2 separate regions of the Homo sapiens genome follow, and region 1 is linked to region 2. A link means that fine-mapping ties the variant in region 2 to the expression of a gene that starts in the linked region. Tissue or cell type: putamen. Region 2 holds a variant in brackets; the other region holds the start of a gene. All regions are shown on one strand. Distances are from middle to middle.

Region 1 (10,869 bases), 55 kb after region 2:
ACTTAGCAAAATAAAAATAATTTTTACTAGGAAAATTTCAAAAATATCTTTAAGTGAACTGGTTAATAAATCCTTTTAAGACATGTACTTCTAAGGAAAGAAGTTATTCTAGAAAAACAAACTACTTATCTAGTCTTTCAGTGATCCTGAAAAATATTTTATGGGTTATCATAAAACAAGAATAACCCCAGCAGCCATCACAGTGGGATCTCCCGGATAGAGCAATAGTGGGCGATTACACCAAAGGAGTACCACATCCCTTTGCCATTCAACAGAGTTGAATTTTGCTAAAAATACAGATCACAGGAAGCCTTGATGAGGTAATTAACTCTCAATGCTTCACAGAGGCTGAAAAATGAAAAACGGTATTCCTACACCTGTCTTGAAGTCAGCCCTGGGTAGGGCAGGTTTATGGCAGATGGTGTGTGCAAAACCCATACAGCTTTTTTTTAGGTAGTGGTGGAGGTATTACCTTCTCTCCAAGTTGATTCCTCCATCACTGGTGCCAAACTACAGCAGTTTTGCTAAAAATGTGGCAATTCAATGTGCAGAAAAGATAACGTTGTGGGAAAGCCCTGACTCTTATAATCTTACTAACAGCTTTTTACTGTGTGACCCTGAACAACCATTAACCTCTATTTTCTTATCTGTAAGTCAACAATATATGGCCCATAATCTTAAGGGATAGGAAAAGGGTCAAATAAACTGAAACTTCAAAAAGCATTTTGTGAACTGTAAAACACAGTATATGTAAAAAGTCTAAAGGACGACAGAAACTTAGACAATTCAGAGAAAAATTCTACTGTGAACATTTTATTTTCACAAAACAAACTTTACAGATTTTACAATCTCCCAAATTTCACTTATTTAAAAATAGGAGAGACAAGGCAACCTAGACTCCAAGATTGCAGGCGTGAAAAAACTAGTACCAGATATTCAAGTTATATATGCAAACTGCATTTTATATACCATGAAAGTGAAATGTGACAAACACTCACTAGTTTCAAGTGTACCTTATAAGAAACACATGGACATACTTGGGTTTTTTAACCACATAGTCTCATATCAATAAACATCTAAGTATCTGACATGTATTTTTCCATTAAAGGTAGGCACAACTCTATGAATATCAAATTATATCAATCATTTGCTTTTTATAATCTTGACTGGAAACTGAAAAATAAGAGGAATGTAAAGTTAAGTAGCCGAAAATGCTACTTACTGCACAAAAGCACATCATGAAAAGGAATGCTAGAAGTAGTTCTCCTCAGGAATGGGTTTTTGAAAATTTAAAATATTATTTTATCAGAAAAGTTAAAGCCTTCAGTGGGAAAACCATGGTAAATGACATATTGACTCAATCTCTAAAGCCCTGGCAAATTATAGATTTTGTGCAATTAGTGACCAACATATACATTTAAGAGATAATACTGACTGTTGACCAGAACCTTCTGATGGTTCTGAAGCATCTGCTCTTTAGAGTTACTTCAGCTTTACATGTCTATGAAATTTAAGATTCCTCAATGGGATGTTATAGCTTATTCTGCACTAGATACAAGTAATATGTATAGATTTAGAACAAATGACTACTTTTCACCTTCCAGGAGCCTGTTTTTATTTATACAAAATTAGATTGGTTTTTCACCCACATGTATGCATAAGTGCTTCTCAAATTTACACCGTTCATATCTGAAATCCCACAATAAATGCAAATAAATGGATACTAGTTTATATATTTCATATTTTCATTCATCTTTTTTTTTTTTTTTTTTGAGACAGAGTCTCCGTTGCCCAGGCTGGAGTGCAGTGTCGTGATCTTGGCTCAACTGCAACCTCCACCTCTCAGGTTTAAGTGATTCTCATGCCTCAGCCTCCTAAGTAGCTGGGACTACAGGCACGCACCACCACGCTCGGCTAATTTTTGTATTTTTAGTAGAGACAGGTTTTCACCATGTTGGCCAGGCTGGTTTCAAACTCCTGGCCTCAAGTGATCCACCTGCCTCGGCCTCCCAAAGTGCTGGGATTACAGGCATGAGCCACCATGCCTGGCCTTTCATCCATCTTTAAACAAATTCAATGACCATCTAGAGACAGATGTGACCAAAGTGTTACAAATTTCTATGCATTTTCTATGAATTGCTCTGTGCAGTTCACACATGGGTTCATTCACCCCGCAGGCTGTGAACTTCCTTATCCTGTAGGCTGCAGGTACTTAGGTTTCAGCAACTACGCGACCCAAAAGACTAAAGGAGGACTTGTTTAAATTAGTCCCTCTCAAAAATTGTTTCCAATCTTATAACAAACAGATTTAATATGCTTGTGGGTTAAATTTTAAAGTAGTTATGAAGCCATTTACTCTAATATAAATGAATGAAATGTAATTAAGAACCATACTTAAACGAGTACTTAATTTTAATGAATGGTATTTTTCATTTATATACAAAGGAATAGCCAGCAGCATTTAAATATAGAAATAGTCCCATCTCTTCTCTATTCCCTTTTATAAAGTGCCATTTTAATTGGGTAGATTTACTACCCAGATTTTCAGTAACTACAGGATAGGTATCTAATTGTCAAGAAAAGCTTGGAAAATTAAGTTTAGCATTTTAAACATTTGTAAAACATTGCTACAAGTCATAGAGACTACCAATGTATTAAAATAAAAAGTGTACCTTACATAAGAATCATTAAGTTGGTTTAATAATTACTTCACAGAAACATGGGCTCATGAATACTTAGGCCAATTTGTGCTAATTATTTAAACCAGAAACAGTTTCTGTAGGTAATTCAGCTCTAAGCACCATTAAATAGGGTTATGCCAAATAGAACAATGGTTAAATAATCCTCAGAATAAACACCCCAGCAAATTCAAACTTTTAGAATAGTAACAAAAGTTAGTGAGAATCCGAAAGAGAGGCAACATTTTATTGAAAACTATCATAGGCTGCTAAGTGTTCTCTTTAAATAAAATTTTGTGTAGTTATTAATGTACCTTAACACTGGTGTACCTTAATAGTGGTGTTAGAGATAGGTGGAAACCATACTACAGAAGTGAATGTTGCCTGTTTCTTTTGTTCAGTGATTAAAACTGAAATTGCTTTTAAAAAAATAATTTAACTGCTACTTACAATACACATAAAATACCAAGAAGATTCCCATTTTATTCACATTATTCTCTAATTAGTATTTTTGCATTTCAACTTTGATCTGACCTTCAGTAGTACCTTAAAATGCAAATGCAATTAGTAAAAACGGGGCAGCCTGTCGTTTTCACACTTAGAAATACAATGTAGTTTCATTACAGTTTGCATTTTTTTGTTACTCTTGAAAGAGTAACCCCTTATAAAATCAGATACATAAAAACTGCATTATTCCTTACTTTGCAGGCATCCAGGAATGGTTAAAGCAAAGGAACTCTCATTCATTAATTCATTCATTCTGTTCCCCCAATTTAGATACATTTCTAGTCTCCAGAAACGGACTCCAGGGCAGGGAAGTGGAGGGCAGAGAAGAGGTACAGGTCAAGGTATGATGAATCTCTGAAAAAGACATCCACTTTTCCCAGAAGGCTAGCCTGAAGAGAACTCCGCCCCATCCATTCCGATCCCTCAAGTAAGAATGCATAATTTAGCTTGTCCTTCTGGTCTCACTTCCTTACAACACCTAGTATTCAATTTATTAAGACAAATAAACCTTTGCATTTTCTAAAAGAAGCAATTTTTACCCAAATACATTGGACTTTGGTCTCAATGTGAAGGGCGAGTGGCCTTTAACAGGTCGTTCCTCCCCCACTCCCTCCTCCCCCCTGCCCTCCAGCGGCTGCTCTGGGTCCCTGAAAGAGGGTGTGGTGTGGACGATCTGGGTTCTGAATCGGATTTTGTTGAGTCTGGGTTTTATACGTCCACTAGAGCTGCCCGAGGCTTTGCGCCCTGGATCCTTGGCTTTGCCTCCGACCCACCCCTCAGCCGAGTGGTGATGGTGGTGATGGTCCCCTCCATCTTCTAGGGCGTGTGAGAGTTTGTAGGTGATGAGATGCGAGGGAAGCACCTTTGAAAGCCTCCAGCGCCCGCCGCCGCTACCCGCGGCGCTTTCCCCGTCACCCTCGTCCAGGGCTCCCACCAGGTTCTTGATCTCCTCGGCGATGCTCCGACTCAGGTACTGGGAGGCCTTTTTCCCACTGTAGTCCCTGATGTCCACATCGGCGTCGTAGGCCCCCACCAGCAGCTTCACCACCTCCACGTGGCCGTGCATGGCTGCCAAGTGCAGGGCGGTGTAACCCCCGCTCGTCCTGGCGTCGATGTTCACCGGCAGCTGGTGTTTGTTGGCGAAGTTGACTAGCATGGCCAGAAGCTCCTGCCTGCCGTGCTTGGCGGCCCAGTGCAGGCAAGTGAAGCCGGTAATGAAGTCCCGCTTGACCAGCAGGCCGGGCTCGCAGGTGAGCAAGCCCTCCAGGCTGTCCCACTTGCCATCGGAGGCAGAGAGCATCCACGCGTGCTCCAGGGGGTCCAGCGTCACGGAGCCTCCGCCGCTGCTCTCCTCCTCCGCGGACGACGAGGCCACCGATGCGCTGTCTGAGTCGCCCCCGCCTCTGCCGCGTCCTCCCCCGGAGGAGCTGCCCGGGCTGCTGCCCCCGGGACACACGCTCCTCTTCAGCTGCGGGGAGCTGCCCATCACCAGGTCACGGAGGTTCTGGCGGGCCGGCCTCTGTGCGGTAGCCCCCACAAGGGAGCTGCCCCTGTCCGCCTCCTCGCAGCCATGTGGCGGGAGCTCCAGGTCCTCGCTGGGCCCCGGGGCTGGAGTCCGCGGTAGGGGCTGCACGTCGCGCCGCGAGTTCTTCCTGCGAGCCCCGGCGCTCAGGGGCGGCCAGTGCGCGGGGGCGGGGGGCTCTCCCTCGCCCAGCTCGCGGCCCTGTCCAGGGAGCGACTCCGGGGCCGCCGCGTCGGGGAGCCGATCGCGCGCCTCGGGCCCGGCAGGGCCGTCGGGGGCCTCGGGCTCGGCGGTCACCTGGATTCGCGGCGGGTCCCCGGAGGGCTCGGACGGCCCTTCACAGAACCTCTTCTTGAGGTGCACGTACTTGGCGCCGTCGGCGGGATCGACGCGCACAGTGGCCACGGCGTTCACCAGCTCCTTGAAGTGCGCGCGGGCGCGGGCGCGCTGCTCCGGTTCGCCGCCTAGGGCGCCCCTGAAGTGCTGCACCAGCTCGGCGTGCAGGGCCCGGCCCCCGCGCTCCGCCAGGAAGCGCAGCACCGCCTCGGGGCCCAGCGCCGCCTCGGGGCCCCACTCTGCCGGCCCCTCCATCCTCGACCGCGCTGCTCCCCCGCCAGCGGGCGGCTCAGCGCGGTCCCATAGCGACGGGCTCCCAGCGGCCGGCTCCCGACGGCGGCGGAGTCTGGCGGGCTCAGCGGGCTGCCAGCCTACGCGTCTGAGGCCAGAGGACTCGGCCACCGCCTCACTGGGCCGCGCCCGGGCGGACACGCCCCCCGCACCCCCGCCCCGCGCCCACGCCACCAGGCCACGCCCACTTCCGCTCCCCGCTGTCTCGGCCACACCTACCTAGGGCGGCCTCGCCTCAAGGCCCGCCCACTTCCGGCCTCGCGAGGGCCGCAATCACTGCTCCGCAGTTCCCGCCTGCATTCCTCGCGCCGTCTTCCTGGAGTCCCAGCTCTCCTTCAGCCCGCCCCAACGCTGACGCTCAGTCCTCAGGCGTCGAGGGTAGCTCCTGTGAGGGGCTCGCTTGGCGCAGGCAAAACGCTCAGCGCGCACCACAGGGCGTCCGCCCCAACCCCGCCCCCGGAGGCCTCCAGCTCGGCCCCGCCCCTGTCCCTTCCCCGTCGCGGAGGCAGCCTAGCCTCGCGCCCCGCCCGTTGCTTCTGCCCTCCGGCCTTCCCGCCGCCGTCGCCGGGACCAGCCGCTCGGGGCCGGGCTGATACAGCCGCTTCACCGTGCCCCTGCCCGCGACCATGGCCTCCTCCGAGGTGGCGCGGCACCTGGTGAGTCCCGCCGACGCCGGGGCCCCAGCCCCGCGCTCCCCGGCCCCCGCGGGACTTCCCGCCCTCGACCCACCGGCCCCCTGGTCCGGCCCGGGATTGTGACCCGCGCCCCCTCCGGCCCCGCCCGCCCAGTGCTCCCCGGCTTCCGCGGCGGCCGGGCGCCTGGGGCGGGAGAGGAGCCTCTGCGGAGCCTGGGCGCGGCCGGACCCCGGTTCGCGGGGCGCGGCGCCAGCGTCGGGACGGTGGGAGAGTTCTTGAACGACTTCCCGGTCTTTGCCAAAAGTTACATCCACAGCGGTGTTTGTGGGTCTCTTACGGCTATAACGGAGTTGAAGGCGCAGTGCGGACTGATTGAATAGCGGTCATCTTTTGCAGCCGTGAGCACTTCCGAGCCTCCCTGCCGCCGGGAGAAAGCCCGGCTCCCCTGGCTTTTCAAAAGCTCTCCCGTTTTATCCGATGGTGTGGTCGTCCAAGTTTTCCTCCATTGGGATTTTAAACCGTTTTTTTCCCGCCTTGACTCTTTTGTACTCTAAAAGAACGCGTTTGTTCACTGTTTTGAACCTTTCCAGTTACTTTTGTAGATTTATCTCGCTTGTTAGTAAGCCAGCGGTTTTCCAAGTGTGGTTACAACTATTTTCGTTAATAGTACCAAGGTCGTGTACATCGAGTTTTCCAAAGGCTACATGGTATGGAGTGATCTCACCGCCGTTTGGAGGCCCGATGCCTGTGTATTCTTAAAAACAAATTCTCCCTTTTAATTTTTGATAGTAAACATTGGTGGTTTTCATCTGTGTAAACAAAAGCTCTTTGGAGGCTGGAGACCAAAAAGTTTGAGAACCACTCTACTAAGCAACCTCCTACATGAGAAGTTTAAATTGTAGAAACAGTTCAGATTGCAGGCTGAGAGATTAGAGGATCCGTCCAAAGTGACACCGTTGGTTTGTTTTATAGAACCTGGACAAAGATTTTTCTCCCTGATTCAGCCCAGGTCTCTTTTCATTCTATCGCGTATTTTTTAAAAATCTCAAATTTTCTGTCTGGACCCCCTTGTCTCAGTTGCTGTGTTTGTGTGCATGTGTGAGTGAGGGAAAATTGAGGGGTCCTGGTGAGGAAAATGTGTTTTATAAATTCTTTGATTCATAGATTACGTATCCAAACAAGCTTGAGCAGAAGAGAACACTTCATTTAGCTGATGTTAGATTTATTTTTAATTGTACTTAATTTGCTTTGAGGCTAACTTTACTTATTTTCGAATTAAACTGTATTTTGCGTTAATTGTAGATTAATATGCAGTTGTAAGAAATAATACAGTATAGTGAGAACCCTGTACCCTTTATCCACCTTTCCACAATAAGATCTGGCAAACCCATAGTACGATATCACAACCAGCATATTGTCATTGATTGATACAGTGAAGATAAAGGATGTTCCCAGGACCAGGAGGATCCCTTAATGCCTTTTTATAACCACACACACTTCTTTCCTGCCCTGCCTCCTTCTTAACCCCAGACAATCAGTGATTCGTTTTTATTCTTATAATTTTGTCATTCCAAGACTTATATAATGGAATCACCCAGTTAGTAACCTTTTGAGATTGGATTTTTTTTTTTTCAACTCAGCAAAGTTCTGGAGATTCATCCAGGTTGTTGCATATATCTGCAGTTTGCTGGGGTAGTATTCCATGGTATGATTGTGCCACAGTTTGAAGGATATCTAGGTTGTTTTCAGTTGTTGGCTATTGGCAATAAAGCTGCTATAAACATTCATGTACAGTAACTCATAATGTAAGCATAAGTCTTCAGTTCTTTGGGATAGATGCCCAGGAATACAATTGTTGGGTCATATGGTAGTTGCATGCTTAGTTTTGTAAGAAACTGCCAGACTTTCTCAGAATGGCTGTATTATTTTGCATCCCTACCAGGAAAGTATGAGAGGTCCAGTTTCTGCACATCCTTACCAGCATTTGGTGGTGTCCTTATTTTTAATTTAGCCATTCTTATAGGTATATAGTGACACCTCATGGTGATTTTAACTTGGATTTCTCGTATTGTCACCCAGGCTAGAGTGCAGTGGTGCCAAGATGGCTCACTTCAACCTCAGCCTCAATCTCCTGGGCTCAAGCGATCCTCCTGCCTCAGCCACCCCAAGTAGCTAGGACTATAGGTGTGCACCACCACAGCCGGCTAAATTTTTGTATTTTTTGTAGAGGCAGGGGTGTGACCATGTTGCCCAGGCTGGTCTCAAACTCCTGGGCTCAAGCGATCCTCCCGTCTCAGCCTCCCAACATGTTGCCTATTTTCTAGTTAGATTTTTTTTTTCTGTTGGGTTTAAAGTTTTTTAGGTATACTAGATTCCAGTCCTTTCTCAGATATGTGATTTGAAAATGTTCTCTTTCAGTCTGTAGTTTATCTTTTCATCTTCTAACAGGGTCTTTTGCAAAGCAAAAGTTTTCAGTTTTGTTGAAATTTATCATTATTTCCTTTTATGGATTGTGCTTTTGGTGTCAAGTTTAAGAACTCTTTGCCTAACCTTAGATCCCAAAGATTTTCTCTTATTTTTTTCCTAAAAGTTTTATAGTTTATGTTTTACATTTATGTTATGACCCATTTTGAGTTAATTTTTCTGTTAGGTGTCAGACTTAAGTTGAGGGCCATTTTTTGGCCTATGGATGTCCAGTTGCTCCAGCACCATTTGTTGAATAGGCTCCCTTTCCATTATTGAGTTGTTGATGCACTTTTGTCAAAAGTCAGTTGAGCATATTTGTGTGGGTCTGTTTCAGTCTGTTTCTGGGTTCTCCGTTAGCACGCAGTCTTGATTCCTGTAGCTGTGTAAGTCTGAAATAAGGTAGACTGATTTCTCCCACTTTATTCTTCTCTCCCCCAGATTTTTAGCTATTCTAGTTCTGTGCCTCTCTGTGTAAGTTTTAGAATCGTCTTATCTATATTTACAAATAATTTTGCTGGGATTCGAGAGGAATTACATTAAATGTTTATATCGATTTAGGGAGAATTGATAGCTTTACTATGTTGAGTCTTCTAACTCATGTACATAGTATTTCTCTTCATTTCTCTCTTTTTTTTTGAAGACGGAATGTCGCTTTGTCACCCAGGCTGGAGTTCAATAGCATGATCTCAGCTCACCGCAGCCTCCACCTCCCTGGTTCAAGCGATTCTCCTACCCCAGCCTCCTGAGTAGTTGGGATTACAGGCATGTGCCACCACGCCCGGCTAATTTTTTGTATTTTTAGTAGACACAGGGTTTCTCCATGTTGGTCAAGCTGGTCTTGAACTCCCAACCTCAGGTGATCCACCCGTCTCAGTCTCCCGAAGTGTTGGGATTACAGGCGTGAGCCACCATGCCCGGCCCAGACCTTTTTTTTAATAGAAGAGGATATTAAAATTCAGGGAAGTGGCTGGGCGCAGTGGCTCACACCTGTAATCCCAGCACTTTGGGAGGCCCAGATGGATGGATCATGAGGTCAAGAGATTGAGACCATCCTGGCCAACACCGTAAAACCCCATCTCTGCTAAAAATACAGGAAATTAGCTGGGCTTGGTGGCATGCGCCTGTAGTCCCAACTACTTGGGAGGCTGAGGCAGGAGGATCACTTGAACCTGAGAGGTGGAGGTTGCAGTAAGCTGAGATCGCGCCACTGCACTCCAGCCTGGCGACAGAGTGAGACTCTGTCTAAAAAAAAAAAAACACCTCAGGGAAGTTTAGTGTCTCGCTTAAGGAATCACAGCTAGTGATTGTGAGATCTGCTCTGTGTCATATTGTCCCTGCCATTATCTCCACCATGCTCCTTATTAGGAATTGCATCATTTTATGATTCAGGAGATCCTGGCTGTATAATTAGTTATTGTTGACTGAGATAGTGGATCTTGAAATAGTGTTGAGTACAGTCCACTGACTGCCTTTTCATCTCCCGAGAAACACAGCCATAATTTTCCACTTCTTCAGTTATCCTTACCTTTTAAGTGGTGACCAAATCTTTGCAATTCCTGTCCGCATTTGTCATTTCCTGTTTTAGCTACAATGCTTCTGAACTTTTTTTCTCATTCCTTCTCAGTTTTTCTTCAGTGAGGATAATTTTCGTATCTAAGAGGCTTCTCATTTGTTTTACTTTCTGTCTTGAAGTTGTGATTCTTAATTCTTTCTTGATCTTTTTTTTTTTTTTTTTTTGAGGCGGAGTCTTGCTCTGTCACCCAGGCTAGAGTGCAGTGGCGCGATCTCGGCAGTGAAAAGACTCAGTTCCCATGCTGCTTCCTCTGAAGCTTTCCCAGAGAACCCCAGCCCCTGGCAGCCAGGCTGCTTCTCATTTGGTATTTGGTCATATGCTACCTTGCAGTACCTCCTAATTTATGTTTTTGTATTGTTAACCTTTTGCATCAAGTAAACTCTGCATTTTTTTCGTCCTTAATTAAATGATCTGTTTTCTGGAAGAGCAACCTGTATTATTCTTTGTATCCTCCATAGCCATACTCATATATCTTTGAGGACAGGCATTATTTTTTTATATGGAAAGTATGTTATCTTGGACAATTTTATTCTTGCTGAATGTTAAATGAATAAATTATAAATGCTTGCAGGCAGCCAGGAGCTGTTTGTTCATCTACACTTATGTTCTAATGAAGCCCCACTTTCCCTAGGCTGAAACACTGATAGTGTCATACTTTTCAGATAGTCCCAGACCGATTTTCATTATAACATAGTGCCAGGTTATGTTTGGATTAATTGATTGATTGATTGATATATTTTGGTCTGTGGGAAAGAAGGAGAAGGATGCTCTTAAATTTTTATAATCTACTGCAGGATAGAGTCCCTCTCTTCAAGAATACATACAGGACCCTTGCTTTCAACCATATTAATGTGATTTATC
Region 2 (10,869 bases):
CAGAGAGAAACCCTGTCTCTAAAAGAAAAAAAGTAGCTGAAAATGAAGTCTGGCCAACTAAGAGATGAAGCAAAATAAGACATGAAGTGAGGGAGAAGCCATGGGGAAAAGACTGGAAAGAGAGATGACTCCATGTAAGCAAATAGTTAAAGCTACACTATGGAAGAAATTATGGTTTCAGAATAAAATGTAAATCTTGACAGGAGAAAGCTAGCAAACTCAGGGGGCTGAGGAGAGGAGGGAAGAGGAAATGTAAGAATGTCAATTTCCTTATTCATAACAAGGAGTTAGTAGATACTGCCTGTAATTGAAACACATAAAATCATTACTACTTATTAATATTTTTCATAAACCCTTTCCTTAATTTTAGCAGGTTATTTTAGAAACTAATATTTTTTTTCTTTTTTCTTGTTTTTGTTGTTTTGACATGGGGTCTCATTCTGTCGCCAAGGCTGGAGTGCAGCAGTGCAATCATAGCTCACTACAGCCTCACAACCTTCTGGGCTCAAGCAATCCCGCCTCAGCCTCCCAAGTAGCTGGGACTACAGGTACATGCCATCATGCTCGGTTAATTTTTTTTTTTTTTTTTTTTTTTTGGAGACACAAGGTCTTGCCATGTTTCCCGGGCCGGTCATGAACTACTGAGCTCAAGCGATCTTCATGCCTCACCCTCCCAAGTACCTGGGACCGCTAGTATATTTTGTGATGAGGAAATATTTTTCTGAAATTCAGCAGTTTCTACCATTTTACTTCATTTTGGGGGGGGGTTGTTAAATTCAAGCACAATTATCTTCAACATTTATTGTTTAAAATAGGATGTAGGCACTAAGCATAAAATAAGAAGCTGGCATCAAGAAACAACATTAAAGGAGTGCTGGGGAGGCCAATAGGATGTGAAAGGTATTTGCAACATAATACTAACAAACCAATGAGAAAAAGGTGAACCTACCCAGTAGAAATAAATTGGGTGAAAGACTTGAACAGGCACTTCACAAAACAGATAGTATCTCAGCTGCCCAATAAATACATGGAAAGGTGCTCAACCTCATTAGTCTTCAGAAAAATGCAAATTAAAACCACTAGAAGCTATGGCATCACACTCAGAATAGCCAAAATGAAGGGGGAAAAAACCTGAAAATATCAAATATAGACAATGGAGATCCCTGGAGCTCTCATACATTGTTGATAACAGGGTAAATGGGTATAGCTATCTGGGAAAACTGTTTGTTCCCCTCCCCACCTCCCCTCCCTCTCTCTTTCTCCTTCTTCCAACCACCACCTTGCCCAGCTAATTTTTGTATTTTTAGTAGAGATGGGGTTTTGCCATGTTGGCCAGGCTCGTCTCGAACTCCTGACCTCAGGTGATCCACCTGCCTTGGCCTCCCAAAGTGCTGGGACTACAGGCATGAGCCACTGCACCCAGCCCACATCCACAACTTTCTTTAGCTGTCTCTCCCCTACTAATTTCTGATGCCCACCCAAATCAAAAAGGTCAGGTAAAGCAAGGCAAAACAGAGCAGAGCCTTAGATTTTGAGAGGGACCTGTCTGTTTACAGCTCTTGGGGTTCCATGAGAAAAACAGAGGTTTCTCCCAAAATGGGGTCTGTGGCACCTTCTGTTTTTCCCAAAGCATCCCAGGCTGTCAGAAATTACCTTAGGTCCTCTCATGTGGGCAAAAAGATTGGCAACAAGACCTACTACGGAAATAATTCAGTCAACTGGGAAGAAAAAGAAACACTTAGTACTGTCCCCATTGTAAAGATGGATAAACTGAGGCACCATACAGTTTAAAAATTCATGTTCACATAGAGTTAGGCTCCACAGCTCACTCTTAACCATCCCGTAATTCTGCTGACTCTATGCCCAGTCACCGAGGCACCTGTATGGTAGCTCACGGCCCCCTTAGAGCTTAGAACCTGGATTTCATTCCTGCTCTACAGCTACGTAATTGAACAATTTTCCTCTGAATTTGTTGGATTCTAACTCTATATATCTCAAGTTTTATTATTTCTGAATCTCAAGAGGGGCTGTGATGTCTTTAGTAATATCAAACAACCTATAAACAAAGGACTAAATGAGGTTTAGCAGTATTCAAATTTCTATATGCTTTAAAACATTGAGGCAATGTATTGAGAAACACACCTAAGAAACTGCAACCAATCTACTCTGGACAAAAATTTAGACACTATCTCTATAAAATAAGCTATCTATTGATACTTATGCATATTTGTACATATATCAACAGTATTTACATGTCATAACCTTAAAATAATTTAAAAGTGTCAAAATTACCGGCCTTATAAATTTCTGTAGTCTTGAAAGAAATGATACAATATAGATTACTTGTTTCTTTAAAGTAGTCAATAAAATGCATAAACTTCTAGAGAAATCCCTTAAAAAAACAGTTCATACCGAAGGTAATAATACGTAACACTAGGAATAAAAGAGGGCCCAACACTGCAGGTTCTTAAAGACAACAGTTACTAAAGCCTTGTTTTTGGTTATTAACCTTGGCCTTAAAACAATTATATACATAATCCTCCGCTTCCTTTTCTTGTTGCAAAGATGTGGTGATGAACCAGATTTGCTCATGCAGATGGCAATACTCTTGAAAATGGTGGCAGAGAAATAAAATGAAGGGTATATGGTTCACTCAATGATCTCATAAAGTGGAACTTATTACCCACCCTGCCTCTTGCATATCTCCAGACTAATATGTGAGAGAGATGAAATGGCTGTTTGCTACCAATATTTTATTTGATGCTTCATTTTTTGATTCCTTGAATAACAACTTACAATGCATTAACAGGAAAGCATAGCTATTCAAGGAACTAAATAATTATGCAACTAATTTTTTTCCTCATCTCTAAAACATGGTAATGGACCAATATTTTAAAAATACAACACACTGGTGAGTAGTTTATTTTTAACTCAGTTTTGGTTTGTTGCTTGTTAAGGTCATTGCTTGGGAAAAAGAAAACAAAAGACGAGGAGGAGGAGGAGAAAGTATAGAAACAAGAAATAGAAGCAGGAGCATAAGCGAATGAAGAGGAACTAGATGATGGTGATGAGAAAAAGAAAAAACAGACTGGAAGAAAGTAGGAAAAACAGGTGTGGGAATCAAATGGCCTATAAGATACCTTTTTTCCCCTTCCTGATTCATGAAATTTGAAAAAGTCCAAGACCATCAACAAAAAAACAAGCAAAAAGATAGACACCCCTTAAATTTCATTAAGAGTGAGATAATGCTACACTCATGGCTGGCTCAGGTGCCATACCTTTTTTCCCCTTCCTGATTCATGAAATTTGAAAAAGTCCAAGACCATCAACAAAAAACAATAAAAAAGATACACCCCCTAAATTGTCACCCCTTAAATTTTGCTAAGAGTGAGATAATGCTCCACTCATGCCTGGTTCAGGCACCAGCAGGAGGAGGGCACCCTCCAGATTCTCCAGGAGAAGGGGGAGGACTCCTCCTTGCCCTGGCTGCACCTCCAATGAGGCCCATGGTGCAGCAACCACAGCTTCCTACCTATGCCAGGCCAGCCGAACCCTGAAGCTCCTACTCCCCCTTCCCAGCCCCCAGACTTGCTGCTGCTGCCACCACTGGCACTGATGCCAATACAACCACCACTGCTGTCACCCTCAATGCACCGGCCCTCCCTACAAGGCTCCTACCACATGGCTACTGCCACAGCCCTGCCCCTGCCCTGGCTGCAGCTGGCCACCTCCTACCACTCTGGCATGCTACAGTCTCTGTCACCACCACCAACTCACAGCGAGGCAAGCTGCAGGACCACAGGCTCCAGCCTCCAGCCTCCAATATCCAGCAGGTGGATCCTCCTTCTCCTGGTAGGAAGCAGCAGTGTGGGCAAAGCCAGAAAAACCTAGACCAGGTTGCAGGAAGTGGTAGCGTTACAGCATCACCTTGTCATGCTGTCCACTGGGTGGCAGGGGCCAGTTTCAGCGAAGGCACTCACACCCACCCTCCGAAGTCCAGCCTCTCCTTTTGGCCCAAGCTGGCCAGGCACTGGGGCCTGGGGTGGGGATTGGAGACACCATAGTGCCCAGCTCCCCAAGCCACAGGAACCACTGGGCCCACTGAGGCTGCACTCCTTGGGGAGCAGGAGCAGCAGAAACTCAGACCCAGCCACCCCCAAACCGAAGTGTGGTTGCCATTCCTGATGCCTCCACCCACAGGGCCCTGTCCCCTTGTGATTCCCCCAACTCCATGCCCAGAGATCCCAGGCTGTCTCTGCAACACAGAGGAAGAGGGCACAGGCCCTGGACCCACAGCAGGTGTGGGGGCCCTGCCATGCTCAGGATTCCCATGGAAATGCTATGCACCCCACTGGCTTCGAGCAGCAGCAGCAGAACGAGGTCAGCCTCTAGAGTTTGGAGTCTGGGGAGAGGAGAACAGCCCCTGCCTTGGAGGCCACTGCTGTCACTGCTGCCTCTGCCACCCGCCACTGGCAGTGCAGTCCCTGATAGTGCCCTTAATCCTCATAGCCCCCAATAGTGCCCCCAGCCCAACATCTGCCTCGGGCAGTTGTGCCCAAGTTATC[G/A]CACCCAATCCACTCCCCGATGAGCTGCTGTGGGTACTGCAACCCCAGATAGTATCCCCAACCAGCCCCCCGCCAGGGGCAGTCTGGCCCCCAATAGCACCCCCCAACCAACCCCCACCCCCACCCCCACTCTGCCACAGGCAGTATAGCCCCCAGTAGCATCCCTAACCTGTCCCCCACCATGGGGCATAGGCCTAGAGGTTTTTGTCTCACCCAATCAGAACATGTAGTCCAGGAACCTCATTTGCATATTTTCAGAATGTGAAGGATGCTAAGGGGGCTTCCCACCATTCCAGGCTCTTCTGCAGCTGTAGCCCAGCTACTCTGTGCCTGGCTTAGAGGAGGAAGAGGAGGAACCGTCTGCCGCACCCTGGAGGCTGTAGCCTGTGGCATCGTGGCTCGCCTCACTGCAGTTGCTGGCTGTGACGGAGACTGCAGCATGGCCAGGGTGGTAGAAAGGTGGTGGGGTAGGTGCACTATCAGAGGCTGCACTGCCCGTGGTGGGGGGTCGCTTGGGGGCACCTGATGCCTGCAGCATAGAGTGGGTTGGGGGTGCTATCCAGGGCACGGGGGGTGGGGCGACTGGTTAGGGGTGCTACCTGTGGATGTGCTGCCCATGGCGGGGAGCAGGTTGGGTGCACTATCAAGGTTCTCACCTCCTGTGGCCCTGAGGGAGGGGTCCAGGCCTAGGCTGCTGGCCAGGGAGCCGGTAAAAGAGCCAGAGGCGGTGAGGGTTGTCAGAACCTTGGAGGTTATCTTGAGGCCTTCTCTGGTTTAGATGTATTTTCTCATTCATGAATGTAGGAACATTGCCTGAGAGGTGTTCATAGTGGCCGTTCTGAATTCTAGTTCTAGCAGGGGCTAAGAGAGTTCCAGTAGTTCCATGTGTCTTCTCTCAAAAAATATTTATTCAGATCTTCTGTTCATTTTTAAATCAGATTCTTTTTGGTTTTCTGGAGGTTTTTTGGTATTGAGTTGTTTGAGCTTATTATATATTCTGGTTATGAATCCCTTCAGGGGTGGGGAGTTTGAAAATATTGTTTCTCCTGTGTGTCGTCTCCTTTCTTTGTTGTTTCTTTTGCTGTGCTGAAAGCTTTTTAGGATGACAGAATTTCATTTGTTTGTTTTTGCTTTGGTCGCCTGTGATTTTGAAGTCTTAAACCAAAAACTTTTGCCTAGACCAGTGTCTTGGAGTGTTTCCACAATGTTTTTATTCTAGTAGTTTCATGGTTTCTGGTCTTCAGCATAAGTGTTTAATCCATTTGATTTTATTTTCATGTATGAGGAGAGATAGGAGTCTAGTCTCCTTCTTGTGCATGACGTTTCCCCATTGTATGTATTTTCTTGGTGTCTTTGTCAAAGATGAGTTAGCTGTAAATCTGTGCATGTATATCTGGGTCCTCTATTCCCTTTCATTGATCTATTTGTCTGTTTTCAGGACATGGTCATGCAGATTTGGTTACTGCAGCTTCCTAGTACATTTTGAAGTCAAGTAGTATGATAACTCCAGCTTTATCCTTCCCATTCATGAATGCAAGAACATTGGCTAAGAAGTGTTTATAATGGCCCTTTCTGATTTATAGTCCTAGCAGTGGGCTAGGAGGGTTCCAATTGTTCCATGTGCCTGCTCTCATTTTGTATCTCCCAGTGTCAAATATCTATTTGGTTTCATTTGCTTTGACATTTATTTTCAATATTGTTTGTAATGTTGATAAGCAAAACTGGCCTATAGTCATCAAATTATCTTTAAATTGGATCATTTCCTTCATTTTGCTTTCTGTATGTACATGGTTGCTTTCTTCTCTTTTCTTAGATTGCATTAGAATGTGACACATCCATTCCATCTTCATTTCTCATATGTGCACACTGAAGGCACAGCCTAGAGTCCCACTTTCTCTGGTAGTCCCTCAGCAGCATCGCACAAGTGTTGCCTGTGGGATTTTCATTGTTGTTTCTTTATATAGGTATCATGCCTTCTGTGATGTATTGACTTGAGAATACTTTGTAGTTTTCAGCTTCCCAAGTATATATGCTTTGAGGTGATGATTTTATTGTATTTTTCTAGGATAAACAATTATCCACAATCCACTAACATTCACCCCTAATGAAACCCACTAAGCCAAAACTAACAGGAAAATGTTTTAATTATATTTTTATAGTACAAAATAATTAAACTGAGGCAGGCAGAAAAAAGTAAGAGAATCCACATAACCATAGTTTACATCACTTTAAATCTTGACAGCTCCAGATGCTGAAAATGAACCCGGGTCCTGCAATTGCAGGCTTCATTTCTCCTCTCAAAGGCACAGTCTGTATGATGTGTTCAACAGGAACATCTCTTGGGCTCTCGCCCCCTGACTTGTTATTCACAAGCACCGTGGTGTTTGAAATCATCCATTTCTGCAGATCTATGGCCAGCCTTCCCATTCCAAAGGCTCACTGCAATTGCTCCTCAGCCCTCTTCAGACTGGATTTCTGGCTTCTTCTTTCCCTCTGACCCTGAATTCAGAAGAGCTTCTTCTGAGGTCCTCTTGCTGCTTCAGCTTCTCCTTCTGCTTGAGGAGTGCTTTAAAATGCTCTTTATTCTGCAGGTGCTGCTGCTTCTTGGCCTTCTGCACCCTCTGACTGCACACTGTACTCAGAGCATCCAGCAGTGCAAGGATCTGACAGGGACAAAACCTGGCGAGCATCAGAATACTCTCACAGACACCGCACACTCCCATCCAGGCATGTCAGCTGATGGAATCCAAGATAGAGGCAATCCAGGATCCAAATGAATGTTAACGCCTTGAAAATGCATCCCGAGCTAGGAAATCATTGTTGGCATGGAGATACAGGTGTGAGCACATTTACCTTTACCGCAAAACCACCTCTGTTCATCATTCTATGGGCTCTGTGTGCCACTAACCAGGAGGAAGGGCTCCCCAGCCATGCCTATGACTCCACATTAAAATGCACAGGGCAGAACACGGCCAAGCAAAGGACTGGAAATAGACTCCAGCCCTGCCTCTAACCTATAGTTCTAGTGCCGTGAATAACTCTGGTCTCATCCCCTCCTGATCAAAACTGAGTTACAGTAGAAATGCAAAGTGTGCTGCCAAGAGTGTTATTTTCCTCTCTAAATGGCAGTCAATTGGCCACAGGACCTTCCTTTCATGAGGCTTGCTTATGATGGTTGGTCTCTGCCTGTCCTTCAGCACCTTGCCTGCGTTTGCTTGGGTCTTGGGCTTGTTCTTAAATGGCAAGGCTTTCTGCAAGGCTTTTGGAATGTGCAGTGAATTAAAATGTTTCTTATGCCTCAGGATTGGCTGAAAAGTAAAATAAAACAAAAACTGGGATATATTTAGATTATGATCTATGTGTATTTGAAACCCACAAAACCTTCTCACTGGATTGACTTTTCCATAAGATCAGTAACACTAGAGTCAGCTGACTCTCAGAAATCAGGACTCAGTCATCCATCAAATATGGACTGCCTCAGTGGACACCCACAATTCTAGGCAGAGGAACAAATACAAATAGCTTATACTTGCAACTCTTCCAGAAAACCAACCGTGCCCATTTCTATGGTATAAAACTATGAGGTCTCAACACAGCAGATGCATAGATCCAGTTTCCTCTCATGTTAAATTCAGACCTTGTCTTTGGGCCACTGAGGTGATTATTTTTTTCAGCCTAATGAGTATAATAATCTAGCTTTTCATCTTGACTGTCAACCTCTCTGGATTTAAGGACATAGTTTTTCCTCCAATTAGCAGCCAACATGTCTTCATCTCTGGTTCTAATTAAGAGCTTTAACTTTATTCTGTTTCTGATAGGAGCCTGGCTTTAAAAAGTGAGATTTGAACAACAGACAAGGGCAAACACTGTACATTGAATTTTCAGGTTAATTTAAGTTTTATGTTTCATGAATTAAGATAATCAAAATTCTTAACTGCCTCAGAAACGTTGTTAGTAAGTTGAAAGTTGTGCTCTAGTCTTTTTACCAACGTCAACTATACAGATAATATTTCTCCTATGCCCTTAAATTTATCATTAAGGACATAATTCACAATAATATTCCATATTATCTGTTTAGGAACACATATTGCTTCAGAATTAAAGAATTCAGAGAAATCTCCTTCTCACAAAAAAAGTGGCACCACACGCTGGACAATGGGCACCACATCCTAAGTATGTTTTAATACAAATTCATGTAAGGTGCTCCAAAATTTCATTAACTATTTTATAGAAAAAGCAATGCCTGTGAGACTTCTGTTTCTAGCAGAAATAGATGTATTTATTTTGCAGTAATTTTTTTTTTTTTTTTAGTTTTTTGTTTTGTTTTGTTTTGTGACAGAATCTGTCTCTTTTGCCAGGCTGGAGTGCAATGGCATGATCTTGGCTCACTGCAACCTCCGCTTCCCAGGTTCAAGCAATTCTCCTGCCTCAGCCTCCTGAGTAGCTGGGATTACAGGCACCCACCACCACACCCAGCTAATTTTGTATTTTTAGTAGAGACAGGGTTTCTCCATGTTGGCCAGGCTGGTCTTGAACTCCTGACTTCAGGTGATCTGCCTTCCTCGGCCTTCCAAAGTGCTGGGATAGCAGGCATGAGCCACTGCACCCGGCCTTTCTTAGGTTCTTACTATTTATTTATGACAAATATTTGACATCCATGATTCTCTCCAGTCAAAAGTTCTTTAATACAATCTGTTGGCATTGGCCAATTGGAAAATGGAGTCATGTGACTCACCCATCCTGCGAATGGCCCCGCAGGTAGCATACATTTTAAACTGGCTGTTAAACCTGCCTGCGATCAGGCCAGTTGCGGTGGCTCATGCCTGCTATCCCAGCACTTTGGAAAGCTGAGGCGGGCAGATCACCTGAGGTCAGGAGTTCGAGACAAGCCTGACCAACATGGAGAAACCCTGTCTCTACTAAAAATACAAAATTAGCTGGGCGTCATGGCATGTGCCTGTAATCCCAGCTACTTGGGAGGTTGAGGCAGGAGAATCACTTGAACCCAGAGGTGGAGGTTGTGGTGAGCCAAGATCCCACCATTCCCCTCCAGCCTGGGCAACGAGAGCGAAACTGTTTCAAAAAAAAAAAAAAAAAACCTGCTTGCGACATTATCAACCTTGGTCCCATTCTTCTGGATGGATTCGTGGTCCTTGGCATCAATGATGCAGTTGCTATCGGACCATTTCCACGGCACGTACAGGTCCACGAACTCACCAGCATCATTCTGCATCTCAAAGCCGCACCTGCTGCCACCACATCACGCACAAGCAAAGAAAGACATTTTCTGATAATTATTGCATTTGCAATTTCAATTTGTTCCCAAGCTGGTAGTATGTATGTATGCTGTACTTCCATAAAGGTTTTTTGATAATAAGGTTAAAATTAAAATTTAAAAGTAGAATTGTGATATCTCATTTTGGTATAATTATTTTTTTCTATGTGTAGGTATGCATTGAGTTTTTTTGTTGTTGTCATTTTGTTTTTGATTTTGGTTTTGGTTTTTTTTTTTAGACAGAATTTTGCTCTTGTTGCCCAGTCTGGAGTGGAATAGCGTGATCTTGGCTTACTAAAACCTCTACCTCCCAGGTTCAAGCAGTTCTCCTGCCTCAGCCTCCCAAGTAGCTGAGATTACAGTTGTCTGCCACCACACCCAGCTAATTTTTGTGTTTTTAGTAGAGGTAGGGTTTCACCATGTTAGCCAGGCTGGTCTTGAACTCCTGACCTAAGGTGGTCCACCTGCCTTGGCCTTCCAAAGTGCTGGGATTACAGGTGTGAGCCACCGTGCCCGGCCCACATTGAGATATTTTTATTTTTATTTATTTATTTACTTATTTTAATAATAATTAAAATTCTTTCACCCAGGGTGGAGTGCAATGGTGTGGTCTGTGTTCCCTGCAACCTCCTCCTCCCACATTCAAGTGATTCTCCCACCTCAGCCTCCTGAATAGCTGGGATTACAGGTGCCGGCCACAATGCCAGACTAATTTTTTTATTTTTAGTAGAGATGGGGTTTCACTATGTTGGCCAGGCTGGTCTCGCACTCCTGACCTCATGATCCGCCCGCCTCGGCCTCCCAAAATGCTGGGATTACAGGTGTGAGTCACTGTGCCTGGCCAAGAGATTTTTATAAGAATCTTTGCTAAATATTCATAAAGGTTATTTCTGGCTGGTAACATTTAAGGTGAGTTTAAATTCATATTGTTGTTTGAATTTCTATAACGTATGCATCTTTACGGAAATCGAGTGATGGCATTTTGCTGCAAAGTAAAAAGACCTTTTTCAATGGGAAGGATGGGTGAAA

The links. PIP is the estimated chance that this variant, and not a neighbour inherited with it, causes the effect.
Region 1: SEPTIN10 starts here. The variant in region 2 is fine-mapped to the expression of SEPTIN10 in putamen (GTEx, PIP 0.98).

What each region holds. Positions count from the first base shown.
Region 1 is chr2:109,608,919-109,619,787 of GRCh38, reverse strand. It overlaps SEPTIN10 (septin 10), which reads left to right and starts at 5,822. Exons shown (of 11, transcript NM_144710.5): 1 at 5,822-5,990. The coding sequence starts at 5,961. SOWAHC (sosondowah ankyrin repeat domain family member C) reads right to left here and starts at 5,424. Exons shown (of 1, transcript NM_023016.4): 1 at 798-5,424. The coding sequence starts at 5,298. The coding sequence ends at 3,721. It also overlaps a transcript of RANBP2 not described here. RefSeq lists silencers at 5,371-5,540, 5,801-6,050, 6,081-6,170 and an enhancer at 6,023-6,932.
Region 2 is chr2:109,664,138-109,675,006 of GRCh38, reverse strand. It overlaps a transcript of RANBP2 not described here and the pseudogene BMS1P19. Among named protein-coding and RNA genes, the nearest start is that of SOWAHC, 55 kb to the right of the region's middle. RefSeq lists an enhancer at 3,403-3,903. The variant G/A (reference allele first, on the strand shown) is at 4,566.